Homo sapiens: one gene and its partner. The protein of the gene in region 1 purifies or fractionates together with the protein of each later gene. This does not show direct contact. Each region holds a gene or a part of one and is shown in the gene's direction. Other genes may lie near its edges. The genes, in order: PLS1 and PARVA.

Region 1 (3,817 bases):
CCTGGTTCTGCTTTACCTTCCCCTGAGTGGTTCTGTGTTCCCAGGATATGAAAGGCAGGGCCGCAGCTTCTGGCTTCACCGGGCTAATTTTTGTATTTTTAGTAGAGTCGGGGTTTCACCATGTTGGCCAGGCTGGTCGCCAACTCCTGACCTCAAGTGACTCGCCCGCCTCAGCCTCCCAAAGTGTTGAGGCTGAGGCCACCTCTGGCCCTCATTCTCTCAACATTCAAAAGCTTGTCACTTCATCCAGTTCCGAATTAACATTTTACTCTGGCTGATGATGAACGTCGGGGAGAAAGAGACATTTGTGCTGCATACGGGTTTATTGGTTATAAAATGGTTATACAATTTTGATTGCTGGAAACTTTGCTGACATGTAAGGTCACATGAGATGTGAGGCTGTTCAACTTTGATCATCTGATTTCTTTTTAGCACTGTGTCTGAAAGTGCCTATGTGCCGTTTTTGGTGAGACATATGTAGCATGGCTTCTGTAAAGGCACGTTGCTTTTTATTATAGTAATATTGTGGGCACAGAAAGGGTGAGGAGTTAGATGATTGGGAGAGTTTTTTCTTACTTAAAACACTTGTTTCATCAGAAAATATTTCCTAGCAGAGTTAGACATAGCTTTGTTCATAAAGTCCAGTGGTGAAGGGACTTCAGACTTTACGATAAACTAAATTTTATGATTGACTTTTGTGAGCAATTCACAGCTATAAAACTACGAGACTGGCTGGGCATGGTGGCTCACGCCTATAATCCCAGCACTTTGGGAGGCTGAGGCAGGTGGATCGCTTGAGCTCAAGAGTTCAACACCAGCCTGGGCAACATGGCAAAACATCGTCTCTACAAAAAAATTATCTGGGCATGGTGGCGCGTGCCTGTAGTCCCAGTTACTTAGGCTGAGGTGGGAGGATCATTTTGAGCCCAGGAGATTGAGGCTGCAGTGACCTGAGATTGTGCCACTGCACTTTAGCCTGGGTGACAAAGTGAAACCCTGCCTCAAAAAAAAAAAAAAATACCTACAAGAACATCTGGGTGATAACTCACTGCACACAGACATGCCTCCTTCAAAAGATCCAAGCTGACCACAAAAAAAAAGGAGAAACTGTCTTTTCTTGATAGTAAATTGGATGGAGACATTAGTAAGGTAGAAGGTGTCTGAGGGGCTTCTTCATGATAAAAAGCAAAAGGTTTTGGGGTGTCACTGACCCAAAATATTAGCAGAAATCAGATTTACTCTATTATTGAGGAACACAATACATTAAATTGTTTATAGATCCAGTTTCAAGAAAGAAGATGTTTATATTAAAAAAATGACAAAAGCTCCTTCAATTTTTTTGAGAACTAAGAAATAAGAGATTTTAGCAGTACTGCCAAAATAGAATTTGGATTTGAATTTAAGACACTGGTAAATGTGTGTGGAAGGATCGGTCTTGTTAATTACACCTTGGACCAAGGGCTGCTTGGAATGAATAAAAGAGGGGGAAAGGTTTAGACAAGTAGAATCTCTAGGTTGATATCAAGTTAGTATTTATAATCTTTGTAAATAAACCAAAACCTCTCAAAGACTCCTGCTGTCTCTTCCTGGAGAGCACTCTGAATTCTTTCCTGGCGGTCTCCCTTTTCCTTCCCCTCTCCCCAGGTTTAAGATCATTGGGACATCCTTTTGGTCAAGGAAATGTTTCTAAGAGTGACCTAGTTATTGGAATTTTAAGTGTTAATCAGGTCAGTGAGGTGCCATCTGTGAAACACAGCTCACCAAAACCCAATGTTTTTCATCAGAAGTTGTCATGGAAGTGAGTTGATTTTGGAAAAACAACAATAATAGCAATTTGCTTGATCCCTTTCTTATCCTCAAATAGCCAAATTAAATTCAAGATTATTGGCCAGGTGCAGTGGCTCACGCCTGTAATCCCAGCACTTTGGGAGGCCGAGGCAGGCGGATCACGAGGTCAGGATATTGAGACCATCCTGGCTAACATGGTGAAACCCCGTCTCTACTAAAAAATACAAATAATTAGCCAGGCGTGGTGGTGGGTGCCTGTAGTCCCAGCTACTCAGGAGACTGAGGCAGGAGAATGGCGTGAACCCGGGAGGCAGAGCTTGCAGTGAGCTGAGATCACGGCACTGCATCTCCAGCCTGGGCAGCAGAGCAAGACTCCGTCTCAAAAAAAAAAAAAAATTCAAGATTATTATCAGTGGAAAAAGGAAATCTGAAAATCTCTGAATGTTTAGTGGTCAATTAAAATGAGTCTTAGGGCAATTTAAAGTTTAGATACCTGAAACCAGTTGGCCTATGATCAGAACCATGGATGAGAAGTCAAAGTCTGTGATTCTGTTTCTGACCCCATGAGAAGGAAGGCCTTCTCTTCAGCTGTAGGTTTGATAATTAAACAAGATAGTGGATGTGAAAGTAACTAGTCAACTACAAGATAGAGGAAAGGCATTTATTGATGTTTAAAAAAGCTTTCTGATTTTACTTCCTTTCACTGATAAGTGGCCAAGACTTAGAGAATGACTTGCCTGCTGGAGGTTGCCTGATTTGAAACTGCCAGAAATTAAACTCATAACTGTGTCTTATAATTTCAACATTTGAAAAAATGTCAGGGTTAATTTTTTTGAGACAGAGTCTTGCTCCGTTGCTCAGGCTGGAGTGAGGGGCACAATCTTGGCTCACTGCAACCTTTCGCCTCCCGGGTTCAAGTGATTCTCCTGCTTCATCCTCCCCAGTAGCTGGGGTTACAGGCATGTGCCACCATGCCCAGCTAATTTTTGTATTTCTAGTAGAGACATGGTTTCTCCATGTTGTCCAGGCTGATCTCGAACTCCTGACCTCATGGGACTTCAGTCTAGCTCCAAATCTAGTGCTCTTGCAGTCAATTCATATTTTCTTCTGTTACTGACCATATGAAATAATTCCTCTATGAAATTTATGTGCAATTTTTATAAAAGTCTAAATGTATTTTATGGCTAACCCTCAACTATGGAGCATATTAACATTAAAATGAGTTCTTGAAATAAGAGTTGATTAACATGGGAAAATATCCATCTCTTTCATCTTGAACAAAGTAGTTTTGTTTTAAAACTTATACTTCCTGCTAATGTACATCTGGAATGTGTAGGATAAAAGATTAAACTTTCTAAATATTTTACAAAGTTATATTCTCCCTATGTGATATATATTGTTCTGTGGGAGACTAAGCCTTAATTGAAGTATTTCTGCAAGGTTACTATAAGCATTTCTCATACCACTAGGACAATAAATAATGGGAGAACCCAAAACATTGTAATTTTCTAGTAATTCAGAGGAAATAACTGAATCCTGAAACATTGTACAAAAGGGTACACAATGATACCCATTTTTGCATGTTAATGTATTATTAAATATCAGTGGGAATAGTCTGCATGCTATTTCACATCTCAGGCACACTTAAGGAAGACCTTGTGATGTGCATGTTGCTCATTTAATCTAGAAAGGATACCAAGATTCATTTAGAACTTCTTTATGCACAGTTTTTTTTTGAGTATGTTATGTCCTGAGGCATTAAGGGTATTACTAAAGCAAGCAGCGGGACTTCTCAGAGAAATTAAAGGTTTCATATCAACCACACGTTGTCAAAATCTTCACTTTGAATAGGATTAAATGATGTTTCATCAGTATTCTTGGCACACATGACATTGTTTTTAAAATAACAGTTTTATTACTCTTGGCTGTGACAGTTTCTCAGACTTTCCTTAATATCATACAATTCTCCAATTTAAACTGTATAGTCAGTTTTACAATATTTTAATTACCCTGTATTCATTAGCACTTT
Region 2 (3,817 bases), on another chromosome or scaffold:
GGAGGCCTGGCCCCAGAGCCCACATTCATAACAGCTGCACTCTGCTGCTGTAATACTGAAGAGAGATGGGAGAAAGAATGCCCAGCCCTGTGTGACACTAGTCCTTTCTCTGTTCAGAAAGCACAGATCTCCCCAGGAACCTCATGCCATTCACCTTGGACATCACCTCCCCCTCCTCCCTCTGTCCCACTCTAGCCAATCCTGCTCATCCTCAGCTCTCCACTCAGGCTCTGTCCCCTCCAGAAGACTCCTCTGATGCCTTCAGTGCTTGTGGGCGACCTTTCTCAACCTCACTCAGGCCAGCGAGCTTCCTTCCATCAGAGCAGCTGTGCCTTGCCCCCACACCAGTTTCCCTATTAGACTGTGTACTCCTCCAGGGCAGGAGCCACACTGACCACCCCCCACCCCCCACCCCCCACCATGCTCTGGTCCCCATGCCTAGACCAGGAGTTGGTACACAGCCTCTGTTCAGTAAATGCTGGGTCAGCTGAGATCAGGGCCTGGGCTTGTGGCTCCTGTGCCAGCCAGACGTGGGGCAGAGCAGACCTCCTTGTCTCGGGCCACTGCCCCTACCCCCGAGCTAGCAGCCTGGCTGGGGTGGTAGGCTTCAGGTGGCATAGCACAGAAGTTGATGGGCCCCCTGGATGGGGATTGGCTGGGAGGCTCAGGGGCCAGTGCCATCACCTGGCTCTTCCTCCAGTTTGCAGATGGGGTGTACCTGGTGCTGCTCATGGGGCTCCTGGAGGGCTACTTTGTGCCCCTGCACAGCTTCTTCCTGACCCCGGACAGCTTTGAACAGAAGGTAAGGAGAAGGGACATCAAGGGAGGCCCCCTAGCCCACATCCCCTGACTCATGTGCCCACACCCATGCTGGGGCTATCCAGAAAAAAGGCAGAAGCTTCCCCTCTGCTCAACGTCTTCAGTGCCTGGAGGTGGGACCCATTATAAGAGCTGAGCTGGGAAGGAGCTACCTGCAGACCACTGGGCATCCCTGACTGCCTTTCCCTTGCCCTGAAGCCTGGCCCGGGTCCCCTGCCCTGTGTCCCTGTCAAGTGCCCCAGCCCAGCCTCCTCTCTCCCCAGAGATGACAAGGAAAGTGACTGTGAAGCTGGTCAGCCCTGAGGCTCATGCTTAGCCTGGTTCTGATGGCCTCTCGTAGGCTGCCACATCCTGCTCGCTACACAAAGGCATTTGACCAGAAAGCCTGCTCTGCCTGTTGAACATGTCCTGCCATCTGATTCTTCCAGACGTGTGCACTGACACCCCCAATTTGAAGTCCTGGCAGTTTACACAGGAACACAGTAGGATATGAAGGGAGTTTTGTGCTTCTCCAGGAGTGCTTCTCCCAACAGCAAGCTAGGATCAGCTAGCTCACGCTCCAGGTGGCCTGCCCATTTTGGTAGCCATATTTCTCCTTGAAATTAGTTCAGCCTCTGTCCCTCTGGCTACAGTGCTGGGCTCCTTCACTTCCCAGGGCCAGGTCCTGGGGCTCCTGGGTGTGCAATGGTACATGCTGTCTGCATCTCTCTTGCCAGGTCTTGAATGTCTCCTTTGCCTTTGAGCTCATGCAAGATGGAGGGTTGGAAAAGCCAAAACCGCGGCCAGAAGGTACTTTGCTCTTTCCTGGGTTTGTGACAACAGAGTGAGACCCTCTCCCTGCACATGAGTACTCAGATTTTGTAGCAGAGGGAAGCATTTTCTGAAGCCTTCGTTGCTGGGGAAGGTGGGACTCGGTGCAGCTGCTCAGTCCCAGAGACCCTTTGTGAGCTGCCAGCTGCACAGCCAGGGGAAGAAAAGAATCTGAAATCCCACACATGCCATGCGTGGGATCGCGGGGATCAGGGACCGAGCAGAACTGCTGCTGCAGGAACTGCCCTGTGCCCAATTTCCAGGTTTTCCTGTCCCTGCACAGGGTGCTGACCTGCCAAAGAGCTGTGTCCCCGCCAGTCGGGGTGAAGGTGCAGCGCAGACAGTTCTGGGCTGAGCAAAACTGCTTCTCTCCTTACAGATGCGGAGCTCTGCCTGCTCAGACTCTGTCTGAGGACAGGCCATGATTTGTGGGGTTTGGGTTGTAAATATAAGTCTGAGGGGAAATGCAGAAGGGACAAGTGCTTCTGCAGCCCCTGCATACTCCTGCTAGGAGTGCACACGTGCATTCGTGAGCAGAGGAGGCACGCTTCTCTTAGTAGTCTTGGTACGGATGATTGCTTTCTGCCCCTTACTGACTGAAGTATTCCATTTCACCAGAGCTGGCAGGTCACCACTGTGTTGCAGATAATCTCCTGCATATGTCCCCTGGGAACACTGAGAATGCCATCTGTGGCCCTTTTGCTCGCACTTTTCTGGTAGTTTATAGGCAAGTGGATGAGTAGGAATGGTGGGCTCTCATGCCCCCTTCCTGCCTCTGCTCTGAGCTCCTCTATCCAAACCCCCACCTAGTGGGGGCCATGCCCTGGTCTAGTGGGCTTGAGACCCTGTAGACCATGATATAACAAGAGGGGTAAGACCTTCCTGAACCTCAAGGCACGTGTAGCCAACCAGGGAAGAGAAAAGTTGGAGCCAGTTAGCAAAATGAAATGACAGTCATGGGAACTGTTACGAAAGAGGTACAAGGAAGAGTCTGTGAGGACTGAGGAGGTGATACCACTTCTGTCTTGGGGGAGGAACAGTTTGATGGAGACAGTGGGGCTCAACCATAAGGACCAGGTAGGGCTTTGGTGTATGGAGACTGGGAGAGAAGTGTGTGCATGCCAGACAGAATGACAGCATGAGCAAAAGTCCCCCCGGGGAAGAATGGGGACCCTGTCTCATGACTCCTTCCAGACTCGTTATCTATTGACTCTAGCCAACAAAGGTCAACTCCTGTTCTCATTTATTACCACCTTGTCCTAAGCCCCTGGTCAACTGAGACCTGGGGGAGGACCTCTAGCAAGGCTGGTGTCCCCCTGGGGCTCTCTCTTTGGCAAGGCCACTCCAGCCTTCCTAATGCCATTAGGAATGGACTCTTCTTGTTCTGTGGGCAGATGATGAGCACCCTGCTTCTGGGAGGACAGACACAGTGAGAAAGTTCCGACCATCATTTTGCTTCCACTTTCTTCAACCACTTAATATGAAACTTCCTGGTTACAGATTGGAAGTACTTCTGCTATTTTAGAATTGGGATATTTCTTTCCCTTGGGACAGATAATTTTCCCAATATAAATCAATCTATGGGAATATTTTGGAATATAGGTGATATTTTTATGCAATTATTAAGTTGCTGAATGTGAAACTAACAGACTGATGTGGATGGAAAAACACGTGTTTTATTTGTTATGACACAGGGCATTATGCCCATGCTGCAAATTTCCAGTACGTAAAGGGGAATGGAAATAGCATTTTATGAAATTGTACTTTGAAAGAAGTGAATCCCAGCATTCCGTCTGGTTTTTATGCTTCTACCTGGAAAGTGAGATTTGGAAGTAAATGATGCAGACATTTCAAAGGGTGCCAATGTGGGTAATTCTTTGAGGGCATTTCAAAATCAAACTGGTTGTGGTGGAGGCATTTTTCATGGCAACATGTTTTTAAGGTCAGGAAAATGCATTCTCTGCTGTGCTGTTTAACACTCAAAGCTCTGTTGTGCCTTGAAATCCCCTAGAAACTGGGTTTGTATCTGAGATGACTTGCTGCCCAGGCTTCATGACCGTTTAGTGCCTGAGTTAGTGTAAGCCAAGGGTTAGCATCAAGTTCCTAACCAGTGGAGCAGTCGAAATAATGGCCAGGCATGGAAGCTCACACCTGTAATCCCAACACTTTGGGAGGCCAAGGTGGGCAG

Evidence for each region.
Region 2: the proteins of PLS1 (region 1) and PARVA fractionate together in Homo sapiens (co-fractionation; one large-scale study listed by BioGRID). This does not show direct contact.

Annotation. Positions count from the first base shown.
Region 1 is NC_000003.12:142,602,767-142,606,583, forward strand, and holds part of PLS1 (plastin-1), read left to right. Parts: intron 1-3,817. UniProt on the Homo sapiens protein: Actin-bundling protein. In the inner ear, it is required for stereocilia formation. Mediates liquid packing of actin filaments that is necessary for stereocilia to grow to their proper dimensions.
Region 2 is NC_000011.10:12,516,910-12,520,726, forward strand, and holds part of PARVA (alpha-parvin), read left to right. Parts: intron 1-700; coding exon 701-802; intron 803-1,535; coding exon 1,536-1,608; intron 1,609-3,817. UniProt on the Homo sapiens protein: Plays a role in sarcomere organization and in smooth muscle cell contraction. Required for normal development of the embryonic cardiovascular system, and for normal septation of the heart outflow tract.